3 separate regions of the Homo sapiens genome follow, and regions 1 and 2 are each linked to region 3. The links come from fine-mapping of genetic effects on gene expression. A gene starts in region 3. Each other region holds a variant in brackets. All regions are shown on one strand. Distances are between the middles of the regions. Region 1 holds the start of LOC107984202 (a long non-coding RNA gene). Region 2 overlaps LINC02648 (long intergenic non-protein coding RNA 2648). Region 3 holds the start of PRKCQ (protein kinase C theta).

Region 1 (8,184 bases), 91 kb after region 3:
ATGCACCTTCCCAAAGGAACTGTTGAATTAGAAACTTCTGCAGAGATTATAAACCTTTAGAAAATAAAGCATTTTATCCTGCACAAGAATATTCACATTCTTACCAGGAATCCAACTATCCAAGTGTTTTGTTGTTCCTGCAATAAGTTTGATTTAAACTCTGGAAAACTGTTTTTTAAAAAAATTCCATGTCGATCACTAGCATCCCTCTCCCACTCCCCTCTCCCTACCCCGATAAGCCTTCACATTTATTTTGAGACAGAAAAGAGAATGGCTGGGCTCTGATTCTGACTGCCAAGCTTATAGATATCCCAGCTCTAGAGCTGCGTGTCCTGGGCAAGTTTCTTACCTTCTCTGTGCTTCATTTCCTCGTCTGTCAAAGGAGGATACTAATAGAAGCGACTTCAAAAGGGGTATTCTGAGGATTACGTGAGATATCACCTATGTAATAGATGATGCGTGTGACATATTTGTTAACCGCACCTGGCAGGAACTGCTCCCTCCTCTTGCCACCTCAGTTCATGAATAATAGGTGTGAAAATGCTTCTCACATTAGGCAGTAATACTGATAAACCCATAGAAATGTTTCCTTTAAAGAAGGCATTTTTTTTTTTTTTTTTTACATCTTCCAAAGGTTAAAAGCACTAGTTCTGGACTGAAAGAGAAAAGGAAATATTTATAGTAAAACAGGAAGGGAATCTTCATCTATTTAAATGGGAGCACTGTTTCCTTAGCACTTTTTAAAATAACCCTCATGCAGTCTTCCTGAGCTTTTAGCCTGTCTGTGTGAATGCCTCAGATTTCAGCTGTCTGCAAGGTTCTTGCTACATGCAGAAGGCAAGCATGCCCCGTCACGTACAGTTGCTGAGGCTGCCTGCCTTCTTCAGGCATGACTGTAGGGCTTGACAAGTGACAATGATGGTTTAAAATGCACACAATGCCAGTGTTTTCATTATGATCTCTGTTAGTTATGCTAAGGTATCTGCAAGAACATCCAAAGTCGGGGCCCCAGGAATACACAGATTTCACCTTCTGCCTTTCTTTCAGTTCCACAAGGAGAGATTCAAAATTGACATGCCACACAGATTTAAAGTCTACAATTACAAGAGCCCGACCTTCTGTGAACACTGTGGGACCCTGCTGTGGGGACTGGCACGGCAAGGACTCAAGTGTGATGGTGAGTCCAGTGGGGGATGAGCATGGCCCGACGTGGACCCCCTAGGGGATGGAGCAAGGCTTTCTGGGGAACTGGAGGGAGGATGTAGGGGGTACCACTTCCACACCCAGCCCAGACAAGTCATGATCATAAGTATGGTCTTCTGGGGCAATAAGCCACTATGTTCCTTTCCTTGCACCCTGCAACACCCCCACCCACACATCCCAGAAAAGAGCACAACAGTTCAGGTTCAAGGTCAAACTCCTAGCTCCATCACCTTCTGCCGTACCATAGCCCTGGGGGAAATGAAGACAGTGTTTCTCCTCTCACTGGTCTTTCTACTACTAGTTTCCTCAGTGGGCTCTGGGCTGCCCCTTCCTAATCCCAACAGGTCTAGCTGTGTGGTACCCTAACCCTTCTCCTTTGCACCAGCCAGTAAGATTCTTTCTGTCATCTCATCAAGGAGCAAGCCCAGCACATTCATTTGGCTGACACATGGTCCTGCACAGAAATTCTGTAACATTAGCTTGAGCATCCATCCCTAAACCATTGCTGTGAACTCCAAGTGCCCAGTAAGAGGCTGGCCCGGTTGTGACCGTCATTGCCTGTTTTCTGGTCTTTCCTCCAAGGCCAGGATCGCAGCAGAGCCTAACCTGCCATTCATTATTGATGGAGTTTCTCAGACCTACCATCAAAAAAGGAAACAAGGCAAGGCTTTCTTGCTGTACAACTCCAAGTTGCTAAGGCGATAACGTTTAGAAGCTGAGATGCTGTTACACTAGGATTAAGGACTAGGGAAGAAAAAAAAAAACCCTCAAGAACTGACAAGGCACTCTGCTTTCTGGTTGGGGAGAGACGTGGGCAGAGCCCAGAGAATAGAGCCACAAAAGGAGAACCACCTGTTGCATACAGACAGCTTCTGATTTTTTTCTTCTTCTTTTACTTTTTTTCTGAGACAGGGTCTCACTTTGTTGCCCAGACTGGAGACTGGTGTGCAGTGGCTCGATCACAGCTCACTGCAGACTTGACTTCTTGGACTCAAGCAATCCTCCCACCTCAGCCTCTCAAGTAGCTGGGACCATGGGCATGTGCTACCATGCCTGTTTTTGTTTTTTTTGTTTTTCTTTGTTTTTTTTTTTTTTTAGAGGTATGGTCTTGCTATGTTGCCCAGGCTGGTCTCAAACTCCTGGGTTCAAGCGATCTTGTCTCCTCAGCCTCCAAAAGTGCTAGGATTACAGGAGTGAGTCACCATGCCTGGTGAGCACAGACCTTTTCTTATGATGAAGTATTAAATATATAAGCCACTTTATTTTTTCTTGGCAGCCCTATTTTGATCAGTGCTACTGACTAATGTATGTCCTCTCTTTTGAGCAATGAGGTACGTGATGGAAGGCGGCACAGCATCTTCCGCATTCTCCCCTTCTTCATCCCAATCCTGTTCACATGTCTGGTGGAACCCAGAGCGACCTCTCAGTGGAGGCAGGAGGGGTTAGGTTTTCAAATCATTACCTAAAGCAGACATCACAGGAGGCCAACATTAGCCTCAAGAATCCGTTCCTGGCCCCAAAGGACACTGACACGCTTTTCTCTACACCCCTGTTCAAGAAGACATGGATAGGCAGGGTATTAAGAGTTCATTAGGAGGTCAGAGACAAAACGTAGTGTCCCGGCATCCTGCATCCTGACGGTATCCACAGAAACAGGAGAAATTCTCGCCTCTTGGTTCTCCTGTGATGGTCTCAGGTCGGGTTCTCTGTCCTGGGAGCCCGAGAATCCACTTGCAAGAAGAGCTGGTCCCAGCAGCGCCGCGGCACAGCTTAGAACTTCCCAGGGGTTCCTGGGCGTTATTTCATGGCTCTTCTGCCTGCTTCGTTTCATTTCTTTCCTTGAATACTCTTTCCTTTCCGCTCCATTCTGTTCCCCGCTCTCTCCTACCACCTACATTTCAAGTGCTCCCCTCCCCTTTTTCTTTTGTCCCCTCTCCTCTCCCTCCCCTGCCCTGGTTTGTTTTCCATTCTTGCTTCTGACACTCCCGGGTCCCTGCCCCTCCACTGTGCTCACCCCGCCTGCTCCGCTCACCCCGCATGCCCCCGCGTCCTCCTTTCTCGACTCTTCTCGCCCTCTTCTCCAGCTCTCTTCCCTCCCTCTCTGCCTCCCTTTCATCCTGCCTCCTTGCAGGCCGTCGTCTTAAGTAGGGCCTCCTTAGCCTTTTACCCTGCCTTCTCTTTCTCCCCACAATAATTCCCAAGAAAATAGTCATCCAAAGGGACTCTTTGCCCTCCAAGAAACTGAGTTACGGCCTGATAGGTTAGTAACAAAGACTTAGGACCTTCTCGTGGAGATGGTGGTGGCCTTTCTTCGCGGCCATGCAAGTCACAGAGAAGCCTAGATGTGGCTACAGTTTTAAGGAGCAAAGTAAAACTCCATCCCTCTATGTTCAATCCTAGCTGACAACCTCACTTGGTGTCACGGTGATGCATAAGAAAATGGAGCTGGGGCTACCGAAGTTGAAACCTGACACCTTCTAAATAGGGCGAATGTGAGTTATGCGAGTTTTGCCGACAATGTGGAATTTGGAGCACAATCATGAAAAAAAAAAATCCTTTCTATAGTAAAGATTTTAGGCCGGGCACGGTAACAGACCTGTAATCCCAGCACTTTGGGAGGGCAATGCGGAAGGATGGCTTGAGCCCAGGAGTTTGAGACCAGCCTGGGCAACAAAGTGAGACCCCCATCTCTACGAAAAATAAAAAAATTAGTCGGGTGTAGTGGTGTGCACGCCTGTGGTCTCAGCTACACAAGAGGCTGAGGCAAGAGGATGGCTTGAACCCAGGGGTTTGAGGCTGCAGTGAGCTATGATTGCACCACTGCACTCCAGCCTGGGCAACAGAGCAAGACCCTGTCTCAAGAACAACAACACAACAACAAAGATTTTAAATATGCAGAAAAGATTTTGCTTCAGGTGAATTTTTCTGGCTATATCTATGCCTATATACTCGGTCTAGTAATGGTTAATAGTTGACCGGGCGCGGTGGCTCACACCTGTAATCTCAGCACTTTAGGAGACCGAGGTGGGCAGATCACTTGAGGTCAGAAGTTGGAGACCAGCCTGGCCAACATGGCGAAACCCTGTCTCTACTAAAAACAAAAATTAGCTGGGTGTGGTGATGGGCGCCTGTAATCCCAGCTACTCAGGAGGCTGAGGCAGGAGAATCTCTTGAATCCGGGAGGCCGAGGTTGCAGTGAGCCAAAATCGTGCCACTGC[A/T]CTCCAGCCTGGGTGACACAGCGAGACTCCATGTCAAAAAAAAAAAAAAAAGTAATAGTTATTTACATAGAAAATTCTGCTTTATTTTATTATTGAGCTATTTGAAGAAGAGTGGACCAGTGAAAACTACAGGTGAGGGTTGCCCAAATTTCACCTAAATATTTTAATATCTACATCTATGCAATAAATGATGAAGATGAAAAGGAAGTTGTATTTGTTGAGCGCCTGCTCGATGCCAGTCATTGTGCTAAGCTTCTTTGCACACACATGTGCAAATCAGCAGATAAGATTAAGACTGCATGATGTCATAGCACCTGGTGCCTGCTTCTATTACAACACTCTCTACTCACAGACTCTGTCAGCTGGAGTTTGGAAATCTTTATATCTGATTTTTCTGTATTTTAATGGTGATGTTTCTTTTTTTTTTTTTTTTTGAGACACAGTCTCGCTCTGTCTCCCAGGCTGGAGTACAGTGGCACGATCTCAGCTCACTGCAACCTCCGCCTCCCAAGTTGAAGTGATTCTTCTGCCTCAGCCTCCTGAGTAGCTGGGATTACAGATGTGCACCACCACACCTGGCTAATTTTTATTGTTATTATTTTTAGTAGAGATGAGGTTTCACCATGTTGGCCAGGCTGCTCTCAAACTCCTGACCTCAGGTGATCTGCCCGCCTCGGCCTCCCAAAGTGCTGGGATTACAGGTGTGAGCCACCACGCCTGGCCTTTAATGGTGATGTTTCATTAGCAAAATTTGAATTTCTAAAACTAATAATTGTCTTTACACAGTCACATGGGCACACGCTCTCCAGTCCAAGAGGGATCTCTTGGTCACTGGCAATGGAAGTTAGATTCTATGCTACTGTTTTCAAGATTCATGAATCAGAATACTCACCCTGAATTGTAGGATCCCCAAGCTAGAATCCTGTATAGATCATGAGTCCAGTGCTGGAGATCCTTAATCGGGAGCCCCCAGAGCGTTCATGACTTGCCCAAGGTCACACAGTGTCCACGCTGTGCAAGCTGCCACCAGCACCCCGTTCTCCACCCACCTGACAGGTGCTCGAGTATTTCCCTCTCCTCTTTCTTTTTCTTTAACATCTTATGTGACTTATAAAGATGACAGAAAACTTTGGTTCTTTTTCTTCGAGTTACCTTTCATAACAGGTTGTAGATGTCAATTTACGCCATCAGTTCATGCGTGCAAGAAATATCACTTTCTTTATGACTGTGAGATCCACTTAGTTAACATTCTCATCTAGTAATCCTTGGGGCCCTCTACCCTTCCCATAATCACACGAGGTTTTCAGGAGGCATGGGTACAGGGGCCTGGAAACTGGGGAATGTGCTCAAACACCCGGTTGCTGTTGGCCTCCTCATCTAAGCCCACACTGGTGAAGCCTGTGGCTTTATGTTTCCACACCGTGTGTAGAGTTTGTGATTTTTTTTTCAAAGCTGAGGTCCTCATGCCTGGTCCAGTCTTGCTAGGTGTGTTCTGCCGTGACCTCTCCTGGCATTGCTAGCCTCCTCCTACTCCATCCCTTCCCACATATACACTCCGGCTCCACCGTCTGATATCCATCTGCAGGCTGAGGCTGCCTCCTGGGCTTCAACCTAAAGGCTGGGGGAAGCTCTTCATGGCCCAGGTGGGAAAGGGGATGTTTTGGACCCAGACTGGAGTGGGCAGGAATATTCTTCTGATGCAGGGCAGGTGAGCCCCAAAGTGGGGCTTAGCCCAGGAGAGTTCTTGGCTTCGCCCAGGAAGAATTCAAGGGTCGGCTGTTGGTAGAAGAAAACAGCTTCATTGGCCAACGGTATTACAGTTCTGTTGGTGTTACAGCTCCATGACTGCTCCTGCAGAGCAGGGCTACCCCAGAGGCAGAGAGTAGCAGCTCAGGGCAGTGCTGCAATCCTATTTATACCACTTTTAACTACATGCAAATTAAGTTCCTGGAAAAAGGGTGGTAACGTCTGGGTGTTGCCATGGCAACACTAAACTGACATGGCACGCAGGTGGGCATCTTCTGGAAAGCTGCTTCTGCCCTGTCCCTGTTTTAGCTAGTCTTCAATTTGGTCTGGCGTCTGAACCCCACCTCCAGAGTTGAGTCCCACCTCCTACCTCACTTCCCTTCCAGCACGAGGATCACTACCAGGGAGAGCCAGGGTCAACTTCCTCCCAGCCGTGGCACTTTAGGCTTTCCTCCCTATCCGCAAGGCTCTGTCTTACCTCCAGAGAGAGTTGTTTAGCACCAGGGGGTTCTTCCACTCTTGCTCACTATCTGCCTTCTTCCTTCCAGCATGTGGCATGAATGTGCATCATAGATGCCAGACAAAGGTGGCCAACCTTTGTGGCATAAACCAGAAGCTAATGGCTGAAGCGCTGGCCATGATTGAGAGCACTCAACAGGTAGGAGCATGTGCCGTGGACACGTTCCCGCCATGGCCGCTCAGCAAGGATGTCCATGCACTTCTGCTGCTTCACCTGTGGCAGCCCTATGGGAAATGCCGGGATGTATTTCTGAGCACCGGCCTTGCCCTTGGCTTTCATATCCATGCCCACACCCCCTATCTTTGAGATATTTATTTAATGCATTTGTATTATGCAGATCTTTATAAAATCTTAAATTCTTCATGGCATGAGCATTGCAGAAACAAATAAATTCATTAAAGTTATTGAAGATTCATTGACAGCTTTATGTGAATATATTCGGGTTATAGAATAGCCTGGGGGAAAACACTTATGTGCTAGCATCATCCTCATGGAACACCGAGTCCAGGGCAAATTTGGCCTGCTGTTTACTGTTTTGGCATTAGCTGAATTCCTAGATCCAAGGATAAACCCTCTTTAAGACTTGGCATTGCCTGTATCAGCTGTTTTCCCATCCATTAACTACCTGTCCTTATTTGTGATGGAATGATGTAGACAGCATGAGAGAATCCTGTCAGCCCCAGAAAAGTGTGAAGGAGGCAAACGTGTTCGGCTAATGCATAAAATACAGTAGATAGACTCTCCCAGAATATGGGGTTCCAAAAGAACGTTGAGGATAAGGAGATCTTTGTTGACCCTATGCATTTAAACATTTTAAATGGCCTTTGTCCCCATCGTTAGCAGGCTGAGCTGTTCCATCAATGGTGGGTGGGTGGGTGGTCTGACTCTCTGTTTGTCATCCAGGCTCGCTGCTTAAGAGATACTGAACAGATCTTCAGAGAAGGTCCGGTTGAAATTGGTCTCCCATGCTCCATCAAAAATGAAGCAAGGCCGCCATGTTTACCGACACCGGGAAAAAGAGGTAGCTGTCCTGATCAGCAGTCTAATCACTGTCAGTCATTAATCTCAATTAACCCTAACCTAATGCCCTTGGATTTAAGTTATCAGCTTACCTGGTCTGATAGGTGATCCACCTCCAGCTACCAACTAAGAGGCTCCCACTTCTTAGAAAAGAAACTAAAACCTTTTACCTTTGTAAAAGGCAGGAGGTGGGGGTTAGAAAATGGGATAGGTCTGGAGGGAACAACCACAAATGTTTTCTTAGAGTTTCAGCATGTTACATTCTGTCAGTGTCAAATGGTTTCACAGAAATAAATCTGTCTTAAAATTTGATGGTGGGAAGGCCACAGAAGACATTCTTACTCTGCACCTTTGAGACTTAAATTTAAGGGTAGGAAAGAGAAGGACTCAAAGCCACTTTCATGACATTATGGCAGTTTTTCCAGCCTACTGTTTGAAAGCAGTTCATGAGTGGATATGACCCATGTTTCTGAGACC
Region 2 (8,184 bases), 51 kb before region 3:
TTCTCAGCTTTTCTTGGAGAGGGGCAAGTACCCCTCAACCCCTTCTCCTTCACCCTTAGCGACAAGTCCCGCTTTTCTGGGGGAGGGGCAAGTACCACTCAACCCCTTCTCCTTCACTCTTAGTGGCAAGTCCCGCTTTTCTAGAGGAGGGGCAAGTACCCCAACCTCATATCTCTGTGCCCCAATCCCTTATTTCCATGCCCCAACCTCATATCTCTGCACCCCAATCCCTTATTTCCATGCCCCAACCTCATATCTCTGCACCCCAATCCCTTATTTCCACGCCCCGACCTCTTATTTCTGCGCCCCATCCCTTATTTCCGTGCCCTGACCTCTTATCTCTGAGCCCCAACCCCTTTTCCCACTTTTCTGGAAGGTAAGAACCCCTGAACCCCTTCCTTCCATTTCTCTACTCTCTCTTTTCTCTAGGCTTGCTTCCTTCACTATGGGAAACTTCCACCCTCCATTCCTCCTTCTACTCCCTTGGCCTGTGTTCTCAAAAACTTAAAACCTCAACTCACACCTGACCTAAAACCTAAATGCCTTATTTTCTTCTGCAATGTCTCTTGACCCCAATACAAACTCGACAGTAGTTCCAAATAGCCAGAAAATGGCACTTTGAATTTTTCCATCCTGCAAGATCTAAATAATTCTTGTTGTAAAATAGGCAAATGGTCTGAGGTGCCTGATGTCCAGGTATTCTTTTACACATCAGTCCCTTCCTAGTCTGTGCCCATTGCAACTCGTCCCAAATCTTCCTTCTTTCCCTCCCGCCTGTCCCCTCAGTACCAACCCCAAGCGTCACTGAGTCTTTCTAATCTTCCTTTTCTACAGACCCATCTGACCTCTCCCTTCCTCCCCAGGCTGCTCCTTGCCAGGCCGAGCTAGGTCCCAATTCTTCCTCAGCCTCTGCTCCTCCACCCTGTAATCCTTTCATCACCTCCCCTCCTCACACCTGGTCCGGCTTACAGTTTCGTTCAGTGACTAGCCCTCCCCCTCCTGCCCAGCAATTTACTCTTAAAACGGTGGCTGGAGCTAAAGGCATAGTCAAGGTTAATGCTCCTTTTTCTTTATCCCAAATCAGAAGCGTTTAGGATCTTTTTCATCAAATATAAAAACCCAGCCCAGTTCATGACTCCTTTGGCAGCAACCCTGAGACACTTTACAGCCCTAGACCCTAAAAGGTCAAAAGGCCGTCTTATTCTCAATATACATTTTATTACCCAATCTGCTCCCGACACTAAATAAAACTCCAAAAATTAAATTCCAGCCCTCAAACCCCACAACAGGATTTAATGAACCTCGCCTTCAAGGTGTACAATAATAGAAAAAAGTTGCAATTCCTTGCCTCCACTGTGAGACAAACCCCAGCCACATCTCCAGCACCCAAGAACTTCCAAACGCCTGAACCACAGCGGCCAGGCGTTCCTCCAGAACCTCCTCCCACAGGAGCTTGCTACATGTGCCGGAAATCTGGCCACTGGGCCAAGGAATGCCCGCAGCCCGGGATTCCTCCTAACCTGTGTCCCATCTGTGTGGGACCCCACTGAAAATTGGACTGTTCAACTCACCTGGCAGCCACTCCCAGAGGCCCTGGAACTCTGGCCCAAGGCTCTCTGACTCCTTCGCAGATCTTCTCGGCTTAGCGGCTGAAGACTGACGCTGCCGGATCGCCTCGGAAGCCCCCTAGACCATCACGGACGCCGAGCTTCCGGTAACTCTCACAGTGGAAGGTAAGCCCGTCCCCTTCTTAATCAATACGGAGGCCACCCACGCCACATTACCTTCTTTTCAAGGGCCTGTTTCCCTTGCCTCCATAACTGTTGTGGATATTGACGGCCAGGCTTCTAAACCTCTTAAAACTCCCCAACTCTGGTGCCAACTTAGACAATACTCTTTTAAGCACTCCTTTTTAGTTATCCCCACCTGCCCAGCTCCCTTATTAGGCTGAGACACTTTAACTAAATTATCTGCTTCCCTGACTATTCCTGGACTACAGCTATGTCTCATTGCCGCCCTTCTTCCCAATCCAAAGCCTCCTTTGTGTCCTCCTCTTGTATCCCCCCACCTTAACCCACAAGTATAAGATATCTCTACTCCCTCCTTGGCGACCGGTCATGCACCCCTTACCATCTCATTAAAACCTAATCACCCTTACCCCACTCAACGCCAATATCCCATCCCACAGCACGCTTTAAAAAGATTAAAGCCTGTTATCACTCGCCTGCTAAAGCATGGCCTTTTAAAACCTATAAACTCTCCTTACAATTCCCCCATTTTACCTGTCCTAAAACCAGACAAGCCTTACAATTTAGTTCAGGATCTGCGCCTTATCAACCAAATTGTTTTGCCTATCCACCCCATGGCGCCAAACCCATATACTCTCCTATCCTCAATACCTGCCTCTACAACCCATTATTCTGTTCTAGATCTCAAACATGCTTTCTTTACTATTCCTTTGCACCCTTCATCCCAGCCTCTCTTCACTTTCATTTGGACTGACCCTGACACCCATCAAGCTCAGCAAATTACCTAGGCTGTACTGCTGCAAAGGTTCACAGACAGCCCCCATTACTTCAATCAAGCCCAAATTTCTTCCTCATCTGTTACCTATCTCTGCATAATTCTCATAAAAACACACGTGCTCTCCCTGCCAATCGTGTCCGACTGATCTCTCAAACCCAAGCACCTTCTACAAAACGACAACTCCTTTCCTTCCTAGGCATGGTTAGCGCGGTCAGAATTCTTACACAAGAGCCAGGACAACACCCTGTAGGCTTTCTGTCCAAACAACTTGACCTTACTGTTTTAGCCTAGCCCTCATGTCTGCATGCAGCGGCTGCCACTGCTTTAGTACTTTTAGAGGCCCTCAAAATCACAAACTGTGCTCAACTCATTCTCTACAGTTCTCCTAACTTCCAAAATCTATTTTCTTCCTCATACCTGATGGATATACTTTCTGCTTCCTGGCTCCTTCAGCTATACTCACACTTTGTTGAGCCTCCCACAATTACCATTGTTCCTGGCCCAGACTTCAATCCGGCCTCCCACATTATTCCTGATACCACACCTGACCCCCATGACTATCTCTCTGATCCACCTGACATTCACCCCGTTTCCCCAAATTTCCTTCTTTCCTATTCCTCACCCTGATCATGCTTGATTTATTGATGGCGGTTCCACCAGGCCTAATCGCCACACACCAGCAAAGGCAGGTTTTGCTATAGTACAAGCCACTAGCCCACCTCTTAGAACCTCTCATTTCTTTTCCATCGTGGAAATCTATCCTCAAGGAAATAACTTCTCAGTGTTCCATCTGCTATTCTACTACTCCTCAGGGATTATTCAGGCCTCCTCCCTTCCCCACACATCAAGCTCGAGGAATTGCCCCACCCAGGACTGGCAAATTAGCTTTACTCCACATGCCCTGAGTCAGAAAACTAACATATCTCTTGGTCTAGGTAGACACTTTCACTGGATAGGTACAAGCCTTTCCTACAGGGTCTGAGAAGGCCACCGCAGTCATTTCTTCCATTCTGTCAGACATAATTCCTCAGTTTAGCCTTCCCACCTCAATACAGTCTGATAACAGATGAGCCTTCATTAGTCAAATGAGCCAAGCAGTTTTTCAGGCTCTTAGTATTCAGTGAAACCTTTATATCCCTTACGGTCCTCCATCTTCAAGAAAAGTAGAAAGGACTAATGGTCTATTAAAAACACACCTCACCAAGCTCAGCCACCAACTTAAAAAGGACTGGACAATACTTTTACCACTTTCCCTTCTCAGAATTCAGGCCTGTCCTTAGAATGCTACAGGGTACAGCCCATTTAAGCTCTTGTATAGACGCTCCTTTTTATTAGGCCCCAGTCTCATTCCAGACACCAGACCAACTTGGACTGTGCCCCAAAAAACTTGTCATCCCTACTATCTTCTGTCTAGTCATACTCCTATTCACCGTTCTCAACTACTCATACATGCCCTGCTCTTGTTTACACTGCTGGTTTACACTGTTTTTCCAAGCCATCACAGCTGATATCTCCTGGTGCTATCCCCAAACTGCCACTCTTAACTCTTGAAGTAAATAAATAATCTTTGCTGGCAGGACTATGCTGAATCTCCTTAGGCACTCTCTAATCAGATATCCTGAGTCATCCCAATTCTTAGACATTTTATACCTGTTTTTCTCCTTCTGTTATTCCATTTAGTTTCTCAATTCATCCAAAACCGTATCTAGGCCATCACCAATCATTCTATATGACAAATGTTTCTTCTAACATCCCCACAATATCACCCCTTACCACAAGACCTCCCTTCAGCTTAATCTCTCCCACTCTAGGTTCCCAAGCCACCCCTAATCCCGCTTGAAACAGCCCTCAGAAACATCGCCCATTCTCTCTCCATACCACCCCCCAAAAATTTTCGCTGCCCCAACACTTCAACATTATTTTGTTTTATTTTTCTTATTAATATCAGAAGGCAGGAATGTCAGGCCTCTGAGCCCAAGCCAAGCCATCACATCCCCTGTGACTTGCACGTATATGCCCAGATGGCCTGAAGTAACTGAAGAATCACAAAAGAAGTGAATATGCCCTGCCCCACCTTAACTGATGACATTCCACCGCAAAAGAAGTGCAAATGGCCAGTCCTTGCCTTAAGTGATGACATTACCTTGTGAAAGTCCTTTTCCTGGCTCATCCTGGCTCAAAAAGCACCCCCACTGA[A/G]CACCTTGCGACCCCCACTCCTGCCCGCCAGAGAACAAACCCCCTTTGACTGTAATTTTCCTTTACCTACCCAAATCCTATAAAACGGCCCCACCCCTATCTCCCTTCACTGACTCTCTTTTCGGACTCAGCCTGCCTGCACCCAGGTGAAATAAACAGCCATGTTGCTCACACAAAGCCTGTTTGGTGGTCTCTTCACACGGACGCGCATGAAAGTTTGTGTAAAGATTTATTATACCAAAACTCTGTGAGCAGTTCATTAACCTTCAAGGAACTACCATGTATTACATTCAAAGACAAAGAAAATCAAAACTTTATCTATCTTGGGGCAGCCACGATATTGAAGACAGGTCCGTAGTATTTTCTTGATTCTGAACATTAATTTTGAGCTCTTTCAGAGAAGTAGAGGAAGATGCAACATGGAATGTCCTTTATACATCATTATAACTCCTCCCTGGCTTTCTAGCTTGCCCTGAGGTGACCCACGTTTTAATATGCAACTTGAAAGTCTGTTTAATTTAGAAAGAGTCATGACCAGGAATTTTCAGAGCAAATTTTAAAAGTCATGATGGGGACTGGAAACTAGACCTAAACTTGAAAGATGTTTGTCAGCAAGGTTTTATTGTATTCCATTCGAATCTGCAAGCAGACAAAGCACCAATGATAACGTAGCACCAGCAATAACAATTATAGTAATAATATCTGCCATTTTTGACCATTATCCTGCAATAAGCATTGTGCTTGATATGCATGATTTCGTGCAAGTCTCACACTAACCCTTTGAGGAGACAATACATTTTGTATCCTCATTTTATATACAGAACAAATGGTAGGAGAATTGGGTTATAACAAGGAATCAATAAACAATGTAAATGCATGCTATATGATAGTAGTAGTATCTTCACATTGAAAATAATTTGGCTTCAGTAAAACACATTTTAATCTGTCCTGTTAAATTGCTAATTCTACACTTAATCTTAATTTTTAAGTTTCATGTTTAAGGACTATGAACAGAAGGGTTTTAAATCTTAGGTTTAAATAATAAAAACTAATTCAGTCAGTAATCAGATATATATATATATATATATATATATATATATATATATATATATATATATAGAAAGAGAGGGGAAGAGAGAGAGAGAGCATAATATTGTGATTTATTTTAAGGAATCTGCATTTTACTCAAATTTATGAAGCATTGGAGTACACACTGATAGCTGCAAGAAGACAAAAGCAATGGCCAGGTGTGGTGGCTCACGCCTGTAATCCCAGCACTTTGGGAGGCTGAGGTGGGCAGATCACTTGAAATCAGGAGTCTGAGATTAGCCTGGCCAACATGGTGAAACCCCATCTCTAATAAAAATACAAAAATTAACCAGGCGTGGTGGCACATGCCTGTAATCCCACTTACTTGGGAGGCTGAGGCAGGAGAATCGCTTGATCCTGGGAGGCAGAGGTTGCAGTGAGCCCAGATCACACCACGGCACTCCAGCCTGGCTGATAGACCAAGAGTCCCTCTCAGAGAAATAAAAAAAAAAAAACAAAAAAAAAAAAACAAGAACTGATTATGCTAATCCTGGAGGAAAGAGATCGATGGTAAAGAAATAAAGAAACATGTCAAAAGAGTACTCAGTCATCTAAAAGCCTCCTGCCCAGAAGAGTTGTTGCATTTTTCTTCATGGCCCCAACTGCTAGAATTACAATTAATGGGTGGAGGAAGCCACACACACATGGACCAACACACACATACACACATGCACCCACACATTTACACACACGCACACACACACACAGTTGTGGCAAAATTGAATGAGCTACCTTGGGTGGAAATGAACCTCCTTTCACTGGGGGCATTTCAACAAAGACTTCCATGACTAGTGTGGGCAAGAAGGGTTGACCAGAACATTAAGACCCCTTACTGTGCTAGGATTCTCTGCCTCTTAGGGGAAGAGTGTTGAAGCTGGGAAGTCAGAATTAATGTCACCATTTTGCCATGACTAGATCTGTTTGTGTTGAAACCTCAAAAAAATAGGCAGTATCTTGAAGACACAGAGACACCAACCAGGGGAGGGAAAGTACTTGTTTTTTCCAAGGAACTCCTTAACAACGACAAGGGGGTAGAGGAAGGAAAGTATTAATAACTGGGCTGATGACATGTGAATGACAATAGAACAGCCTCTCATGCCTTGCAGATGATAATCTCCCCAGTGACCTTTCTCCTTGCTACACGTTTTCACAGAGAATCCAGCTCCCCAAACCTCCTTTCCGCAACTCACCACACTCCCACCTAAGACATGCATTAAATTGGCTCATTCCTCATGCCAGAGAAGTCTAGATAGGAGAAAATGAGTCTTTATTGGCAAGAAAGAGCCAGCAGACAGATAGCAGATGAATGGGAAGGAAAGATCACTCGGCTATTTTAAGAGAACTGACAGGAGGCGGGTACAGTGGCTTATGCCTGTAATCCCAGCACTTTGGGAAGCCAAGGCGGGCAGATCACTTAAGATCAGGAGTTCGAGACCAGCCTGGCCAACGTGGTGAAACCTTATCTCTACTAAAATTACAAAAAGTAGCCAGGCATGGTGGTGCACGCCTGTAATCCCAGCTACTTGAAAGGCTGAGGCAGGAGAATCACTTGAACCTGGGAGGTGAAGATTGCAGTGAGCCAAGATCGTGCCACTTCATTCCAGCCTGGGCGACAGAGTGAGATTCCATCTCAAAAAAAAGAGCGAGAACTGACAGGAGATGCACAGATGAGCATCTCTGAGAAGTGAAAGAGCCCAGGTCACTGAAGCTGATGGAGACCTAGGGGAGCTTGGTGACAGTGGAAATGGCCACATTCGTGTCACGGTCCAGCATCTGTGGCAGAAAAATATAACAATCAATTAAAGTTACAGTAAATAAACAAATACAGACCAATTACATATCTTCCTCCTTTTCTGCAGTATAAAAAGCAGTGATCACCGTTTCCAAATTTTACAGGATGTTGATAAGTGGGAAAACATACTTCAAATTATTTTGTTTCCATAAAGAATGTACGTAATATTTCTGTAAAGTTGCATTGATTCAACATACCTAAACCTGATTTCTTGTATATAGTAAATAAAACAGTGCATATCTTATTTTTCCCTGGTTTATAAGTTATCAAAAAAATGGATAAAAAATTATGCCTGAGCGGTTGTGTATTTCCTCCATATAATGGTTCCGTATACACTCATCATAGCATACCCCCTCTGCCACCCAGTTTAATGTTGCAACCCTTGCCATTCCCTCTTACGGGTGTCATTCCTCTAACTCTGCTTTTTCTTTTCCCCATAATTACCCTCAAACGCAATGGATAACATACTTCTTTGCTTTGTTTATTGCTTGTCTCTTTCTGCTAGAATGAGGACTCCGTGAGGGCAGAGGGTCTCTGTCTGTGCTTTCCTTCATATTTCCCGTGTCCACAACAGAACCTGC
Region 3 (8,156 bases):
TCCATGGGAGACAGAGTATAATCACCAACTAGGTCCAAAAGAAAAGCAAAGTCGTGTCCTGGGTTCCTTTTTCCAAGTTCCGAGTTGTGGGAAGATGGGTTGTGGCAGCTCCGGGAGCAGACACATAGGATTTCCTCCTTCCTCAGCTCTCAGGAGGGCCGCTGGATCCAAGGCAGGGGTCAGGTATTTCCGAGATGAAGTGAACTGAATAGGGCGGCTACCCGAAAGGCAGTCCTCAGCATTATTCCAGGAAACATCAGGGCAGAACCTGAAAGAGGAAAAGAAGTACACAGCTGAAAGTTAGGGTGTGTTTAACGTAGTGAGTGGAACCTCACCGCCCACGTGTCATCCCCTCCAGGAAATGCCATTTCCTCTTCCAGGAAACAAAGGTGTGGAGAACTTCTGAGAGCAGCCACGTTTATATAACTAAGAGACAGTGTCTAATAGAAAACAGAAACACCCCATGGCCTGGGAAAGGAGATGGCGGGTCTACAGGATGCTGGCATCAAGAATATCTAGAGGTGTCCACTACACCTAATGGATACCAAGAACAGATGTGAATTTTTTGTTTTAGATGAAATTTTACGATAAAAAAATCCCAATTTTGTAGATATATGATGGATGTTGTTTTAAAAGATCTGATCTTCAGGTTAACGGGTTTCCTGTTGTAGGACTATACGATTATAGGACAATTGAGTAGCCAAGAGTCCTCAAAGATCAGTTGTCCAAAAGAGAAAGAAAGAGAAAACTGAGTGTACGATGTAAGAATGGAGAATTGGCTGGGCGCAGTGGCTTATGCCTGTAATCCCAGCACTTTCGGAGGCTGAGGTGGGCGGATCACCTGATGTCAGGAGTTCGAGACCACCCTGGCCAACATGGTGAAACCCGTCTCTACTAACAATACAAAAATTAACTGAGCATGGTGGCAGGCACATGCCTGTAATCCCAGCTACTCAGGAGGCTGAGGCAGGAAGAATCACTTGAATCCAGAAGGCAGAGGTTGCAGTGAGCCAAGATTGTGCCACTGCACTCCAGCCTGGGTGACAGAACAAGACTCCATCTCAAAAAAAAAAAAAAAAAAGGAGAATTAATTATTCAGCAGCTCTTGAGATGGTGGCTCCAGCCTGACCTGGGTTTGAATCTTGGTTCTGGTACTTTAGTAATTGTGGGATCTTGAGCGAGGTACATAACCTTTCTAAGCCTTGTTAGTCTCTTCTGTTAAAGAGAGATGATAATGATGATGATACATATCACATCAGATTATGAATATTATATGAGTAGTGCGTCTAAAGTCATCACAGGCTGGGCATGGTGGCTCACCCCGATAATCCCAGCATTTTGGGAAGCTGAGGTAGGAGCATCACTTGAGCCCAGGAGTTTTAAACCAGCCTGGGCAACATAGTGAGACCCCGTCTCTACAAAAAAATCTTTTTAAATATTAGCTTGGTCATGGTGATGTGTGCCTGTAGTCCCAGCTATTTGGGAGGCTGAGGTGAGAGGATAACTTGAGTCCTGGGGGATCAAAACTGCAGTGAGCTATGATCACGCCGCTGCACTCCATCCTGGGCAACACAGCAAGACTCTGTCTCAAAAAGAAAAAAAAAAGTCCTTATCATACCTGGTGTATATATGAAACTTTTTCTAAAGCCACTAACTACTGATTAAATTAACAGGACATATGAGCTTCCTTTCAGTGCCTAATTGTCAATGAGAAACCCAGATATGGAGCGTGAGGAATCTACCATCTTCTAGGCACAGTAGCTGTTATCCGTTTGCCATTTCTTCTTTGCACTGTAACAGGATCCGCTGAAAAACAATTGGAGAAAGAGCCAGATGGATGGCAGTCTGAACTAGGGAAGCTTCTGTTTTGTAGTTTGCAGAAAGAATCTGCATGGGGATCACTGCTTAAGCTTTGCCTCTTTGTTTCCAGACACAGACGCACTTTCCTGCCTAATTTCCATAGCAAATACCCAATGAGCGCCTACTGTATGCCAGGTTCTGATGATGTCAGAGTGAGCCAGCACTTCCGAGGTACTGGCCACTCTCAAACCTCCTGGCTAGGATCTTCCAAGAGCTACAGCCTCTGGCCTGAGGGTCAGTCCAATGCTGTTAGATATTGACAAATGCGGGGCTAATTTTAATGGAATATAGTTTTATCCTTAAAAGGTGTGTGTGTTTTGGCTTTATTTGGGTTCATATAGATTAGGGGCATCATCATAACTCGCTTCCTAGTGCAGACCTGAGTGATTTAATCAAGTCTTGAAACACTTCGGGGCCTCAGTTTTTCATCTGCCTTCCCAACCTCTGAGGTTCTTTTTAGTTGACATCCTACATTCCCATGATCAGAAGGCTGCTAATTCAACTTTTGGCTTTTGTTAAACCTTTTTTTTTTTTGAGGCAGAGTTTTGCTGTCACCCAGACTGCAGTGCAGTGGTGAGATCTCAGCTCACTGCAACCTCCTCCTCCCAGGTTCAAACGATTCTCCTGCCTCAGCCTTCTGAGTAGCTGGGATTACTGGCACGTGCCACAACACCCAGCTAATTTTTGTATTTTTAGGAGAGACACGATTTTGCCATGTTGGCCAGGCTGGTCTCAAACTCCCAGCCTCAAGCGATCCACCCGCCTCAGCCTCCCAAAGTGCTGGCATTACAGGCATGAGCCACCGCACCTGGCCTGTTTTGTTTTGTTTTAATCGTTTTTAATGTCTCTCTCAAAACAAGAAAAGAAAAAAGGACAAAAAATTACTATTTTACTTCTCAGATTAATCTGATCTTAGTACACTACAGCAACAAAAGTCTTAATCAAGTACGTTTTAATTATTTGGTGTCATCATTGCAAGGAAACCATTCAGTAAGAATATTAGTAACCAGACATATAATTTTCTAACCTGAATGAGAAATTAGTTACATGGAGTATAGAAAAAGAAACCACCCCGTTTATCCTCCCTGTGACCATCATTAGTATTACCCGCAAGGCATAAAAAGTCCTAAAATGACACGCACGGCGGCAACATTACCTTTGCAGCTTCAAGCACAGTAAAGTTGAAAGCAGTCCCACCTTGGCAATTGTGTATAAAACGACAATGTGCAGATACAGGAAAAGTCCCAGGTCCGAAGCCACCTAGGAACGATGACCCCAGGACAGAAGTGTGCCCAAACAAATGCCTGGGGTAGGTCATTTTAAAAGGAACAATGTTTACAAGCCCTTTCTAGCGTGAAAAACAGAGAAAAGAGACCCAGCTCTTTCCACCCAATCTGCTGGAGCGCCGTTTCGTTTTCAGTTGGGCGAGAGGGAGACATGTGGCCTCTCGCCCCTTTTCCTGACTCTGAGAATGTGGCCGGAGCCGGGGCGCTCCTGCTCCGCCTCGCCGCCCTCCCGGGGCTGTCCTGGGCCCTCCGGCCGCCGCCTCCCGCTCCAGTTCGCAGCTGGGCGACAAGTGGCTGGTAAGGAGGCCAGGGGCGGGAGCCTGGGCGCGGGACCGGGGGCGCACGGCGGGGGACCGAGCGCGCGTCCCTGGCTAGAGGTGCCGGGTCCCGGGAGGCCGGGCTGGCGGGGAGGCTGGCGAGCGCCCCCTGGCGGGCACCGCCTTCTAGGCGCACCCGCAGTGCGCCGGGCCCGCCAGCCCCGCCAGCCCCGCCAGCCCCGCCAGCCCCGCCAGTCCCCGCGCAGTCCCCGCGCAGTCCCCGCGCAGTCCCAGCGCCACCGGGCAGCAGCGGCGCCGTGCTCGCTCCAGGTAGGGCCCCGCGCCCCGCGCCGCCGCCGGGAGGGAGCGGGCTGGAGGGGCCGAGACCCGTGGCGAGAAGGGCTACCCGGGCCCCTCGGAGAGCCTCCGGGAAGGGGTGAGGGCTGCCGGGTGAGCAGGCGGAGTAGGAAATGGAACCAAGCGGGCGCAAGAGCGCACCGGGAAGAATTTCCCCGCTGGGTTTCTGGGACGCAGGTCGCACGGGATGCGGGATGCTGGCGACCTTAGCCGGGTGGGGGCCGCCGGCCTGGGGGCGCTTCCTCCTTTCTTCTCCCTTTTCCTTCTCACCTGAACGAAAGGGGGCCTGCGGGGAGGGAAGAAGGTGGAAAGTTTTTGTATTCTTGGTAAAAAAAAAAAAAAAAAATGCGTGAGGAAACATGTTTTCTGGAGATGGTATCCTGTCCACAGGGGAGCATAACCCCTTTTCTGGGAATGTATTGGAGCACGGACGGGGGTGCCATTGCTCAGGCTTCTAAACAAGCCAAGTTTCTGGTCAAGGGCCTGGGGGAGGGGGAGGCAGGTCTTTGAAAGATACCAAAAAAAAAAAAAAAAGAAAAATCTGCGTGCTCATTCCTGTAGCCTCAAGTGAGGTTATTCCCCAGCTTTGAGGGCCAGGTTAACCAAGCAAAGTTTGTGCAATAAAGTATCTTTGTGGTATTGGATTTTCGAGAGCCACCGTTATCAATGGGAGAGTGACTGTTGAATGCTACAGGCGTGTGCACTCCCCCGTGGGCATGAAGAGAGGTCCACGGGCTGGCTGGATTGGGAGACTCCGGTCATTTCTGCAAGGAGAGCGCCACAGGACTGCCTTGTTCCCTGGGCTGTCCTGCCCCTGTGCGGGCTGGACGTGGTGCTATAAAAGATGATTCAGGAGTGGCACAGGCTGAGGGGGACTAGGCTGGAGAAGGTGGAGGGAAGAGGGAGCACTCCGTGCCCTCTTCCTGTCCATGGGAAATGAACCATCTGTGCCTGGTGTCCAAGTCCTTGACGTTCCAGTTGCCCTTTGAGAGCACACCTCAAGCCTGCTGAATTCTTTTAAGAACCACCTACAAGATCTGAGAAGTCCGCCCATGCTTTCTGTCAACTCCGGCCTCTTTGACCTTTTCTTTTGCCAAAGAAAATTCTAAACCACTGGGATTCGTGAGGCTCCGTGAGAGAGGCAAGAAGCCTGGAGGGTCCACTCCGTTGCTCTTTTCCCTTGGTTTGCTCCCTAGAAGCCATGGTCCCCACTGGGCCCTTCTTGCCCGAGGCTGTGTGATAGACAAGCCCTATTCCTAAGGTCCTGGGTCCCCCACCCCACCCCACACCCCGACCTTGTGAATCATCATCTTCATATTTTCCCTAACTTATCTTTGGTAACCCTTGTAAAATGGCAGGCTTACTGCGGATGCTTAATCTCTTTTAAAAGTGCTGTGTCTAGCGGGAAGAAGAGTGACATTTACTAATATGGTTGCAAATTACTTTTGAAGTTTATGCACAGCTGTTTAAAATCCCTCTGAGATCAGTGCCATTGTTTGATGCAGGTGCTTACCGCAGAAGGCTCTTGTTAGTCCCTTCCTCCTGCTGATTGAACATACATATATTTAAAGACGTGGCGTAGGGAGAGCTTCTAAAACCTGCAAAGCCAAAGCTGCACAGCTCCTGCAAGTTAGCGATCCACTCTAAGTTTTTCAGTTGTTGTTTCTGTCTTCTTGCCTCTCATGAACTTCTGTTTCTGATTTCAAGAGTAACCTGCTGGGCACCATCAGCCTTTGTTTCAGTGACCTGCGATTTTCTTCTACACTTTAAAAATGTCAATATCCAGGCAAGACTCTTGTCACCCACCATCCGCGTTGTCATGTTCATTTCCGCTACTGTCTTGTGCTGTGGTGCCTCGGGATGGCAACTGTTACTTGAGGAGCTAACTTCTACCTCTGTTCTCCTACAGACATGTCCTCATTGCGTCTTCGCTCACCATACACGGTGCAGCTCCTGGAAATTTGATTTGTTTTGCTGTCTCACTTCTCCTTCAGGCAACAAGGGGATGGTGTTCGATTATTCACACCTCAGCTCCTTCTGTAATCTCAAAGATCCCTTTCAACAATAATACTCTCTGTCTCTTGTTAACGCCAGGCATCAGAAGCCCCCTTACATAGCCGGCTTGTCACTGGTCATTTCTATAAAGTATTCTCATTCTAACACATGCTGTCTCTTCCGTGGAAAAGACTAAATTCTTCTCTGCAATGAATTAGATGTTTTAACCAAAATTCCATGTGGACTGGGTCCAGAATTTTCTTTCAAGAGTATGGGCTTGTGGTACAAGTATGTAACTTCGGGGATTCAGAAGTAGACCTACACAGACAAATCTCCTTATAACGTGTTATTTAATTATGGTATATTTGCCTTTCTGGAAATTAGGAATTAGAGTTAGTACTTCCTGTTTTTAATGCATTTGATTGATGTCTTAGAGTTGCTGATTATGTTGTTGCCCCTAAAAATGTTGCTAATGTGCTGGTTTGTTAACAAGGTTATATTTGATTTCAGGTGATTTCCTTTTTATGGAGTTCAGTCTTTAATTTTTTTCAATAATTTGCCTCAAATCATTTAAAATGATATATTGTTATATAATGAAAATCCCAGCAATATAGACGTGATTCCGTGTGTGTGTGTATGTGTGTGTGTAATCTGTAATTTAAAATAGAGAAATTAGTATTGTGACGGCATACATAGCATTAAACTCATGCTTGCTGTTTCTGTTGTTTTAACACTTTAAGCAGCTCATTTCTAAGCAGCTATGTGTTCAGCTCAGCTTTTTCATACCTATTCCAATTGTTAAGGAAGAAGTCATGAGAAACTATAGAAAAATGTGATGTTGAACCAGAGAGATGGATTAAAAGCTGTTTCCTTACAATGGTGAAAATATCTTTCATTATTTTAACATGCCAAGCATTTATACATGTCAAATTCTGATTGCTCTGTCATCTAAACACATTCTTGGGGACAAAATGAGCATCAGAGTTTTAAAATTAGGAAAGCTCACTCAAGCCCAGAATCATAGATTTTTGCTCCTGGATTAAATTAGCAAGTATTTGGCAGGACATCTTTCTGCAGGTTGCTGTAGGTTGATGTTAGCTTTTGAATTAAGCTAATAGTATTAATTATAATAATAATAATCAGCATCAACAAAACCAATGAAATATGGTTTTGAGTCTTTATTATTTAGAATTTATGTGCTGTATATCATACTCAGAATTTTATTTATATGTAAGAGGCATTACTGCTTCATTTAACCTCCAAAAGCCTTTATAAATTAGATATTATTATTATTCCAGTTTTTCAGATGAGGAAACTGAGGCTCAAGGGGTAGAGCCCCTTGTCCAGGTCTTATAACCAGTCAGTGGTAGAGTCAGGTTAGTTGGACCATCCAGATTAGTCTAACCATCAAGCATTTGCTTTAAACCGCAGTCCCAGGTGACCTACCAGTTAACTTTTTTATTGTGGTTAAAATACACATAACTTAAAATTTAACTTCTTAACTATTTTCTAGCGTACAGTTCAGTGACATTAAGTATATTCACATTGTTTTGCAACCATTGCCATCATCCATCCACAGGATTCTTCTCATCTCCTAAAACTGAAACTCTGTCCTCGTGGAACATTCGTTCCTCATCCGTCTTTCCTCTCAGCCCCTGGCAGCCACCCTTCTACTTCCTGTCTCTAAGATTCTGACTGCTCTAGGGACCTCACAGAAGCAGAATACAGTATCCATCCTTTTGTAACTGTCTTATTTCACTTAGCATAGTGTTCTCAAGCTGTATCCATGTGACAGCATTGGACAGGACTTCCTTCCTTTTTAAGTCTGAATACTATTCCATTTATGGATATACCACATTTTGCTTATCCTTGTATCTGTTGATGGTTGCTTCTATCTTTTGATTATTGTGAATAATGCTGCCGTGAAGAGGAACACGCAGATATCTGTTTGAGGTCCTGCTTTCAATTCTTTGGGGTATGTACCCAGCAGTAGAATTGTGGGGTCGTAGGGTAATTCTATGTTTAATTTTTTGAGGAACTGCCATATTGTTTTCCACAGTGGCTGGACCGTTTTACATTCCCACCAGTGGTAGAAAGGGTCCCAATTATTCCACATTCTCAGCAACGCTGTCTTTTGTTTTGTGTTTTTTGAGATGGAGTCTCGCTGTGTCGCCAGGCTGGAGTGCAGTGGCATGATCTCAGCTCACTGCAACCTCTACCTCCCAGGTTCAAGCAATTCTCCTGCCTCAGCCTCCTGAGTAGCTGGGACTATAGGCACGCGCTGCCACACCCAGCTAACTTTTGTATTTTTAGTAGAGATGGGGTTTCACCATGTTGGCCAAGATGGTCTCGATCTCTTGACCTCATGATCCACCCACCTTGGCCTCCCAAAGTGCTGAGA

What was found.
Region 1: its variant is fine-mapped to the expression of PRKCQ in whole blood (INTERVAL, PIP 0.98).
Region 2: its variant is fine-mapped to the expression of PRKCQ in iPS cells (HipSci, PIP 0.95).

Annotation. Positions count from the first base shown.
Region 1 is chr10:6,484,676-6,492,859 of GRCh38, reverse strand. It overlaps PRKCQ (protein kinase C theta), which reads left to right. Exons shown (of 18, transcript NM_006257.5): 8 at 1,048-1,177; 9 at 6,716-6,825; 10 at 7,591-7,708. LOC107984202 (a long non-coding RNA gene) reads right to left here and starts at 391. Exons shown (of 2, transcript XR_001747350.2): 1 at 350-391. The variant A/T (reference allele first, on the strand shown) is at 4,422.
Region 2 is chr10:6,626,330-6,634,513 of GRCh38, reverse strand. It overlaps LINC02648 (long intergenic non-protein coding RNA 2648), which reads right to left. Exons shown (of 6, transcript NR_120634.1): 5 at 6,137-7,584. Among named protein-coding and RNA genes, the nearest start is that of LINC02648, 12 kb to the right of the region's middle. RefSeq lists an enhancer at 4,194-4,765. The variant A/G (reference allele first, on the strand shown) is at 4,723.
Region 3 is chr10:6,575,788-6,583,943 of GRCh38, reverse strand. PRKCQ (protein kinase C theta) reads left to right here and starts at 3,668. Exons shown (of 18, transcript NM_006257.5): 1 at 3,668-3,733. It overlaps PRKCQ-AS1 (PRKCQ antisense RNA 1), which reads right to left and starts at 3,519. Exons shown (of 2, transcript NR_036503.1): 1 at 3,017-3,519; 2 at 1-268. RefSeq lists an enhancer at 163-457 and silencers at 3,257-3,406, 3,417-3,666.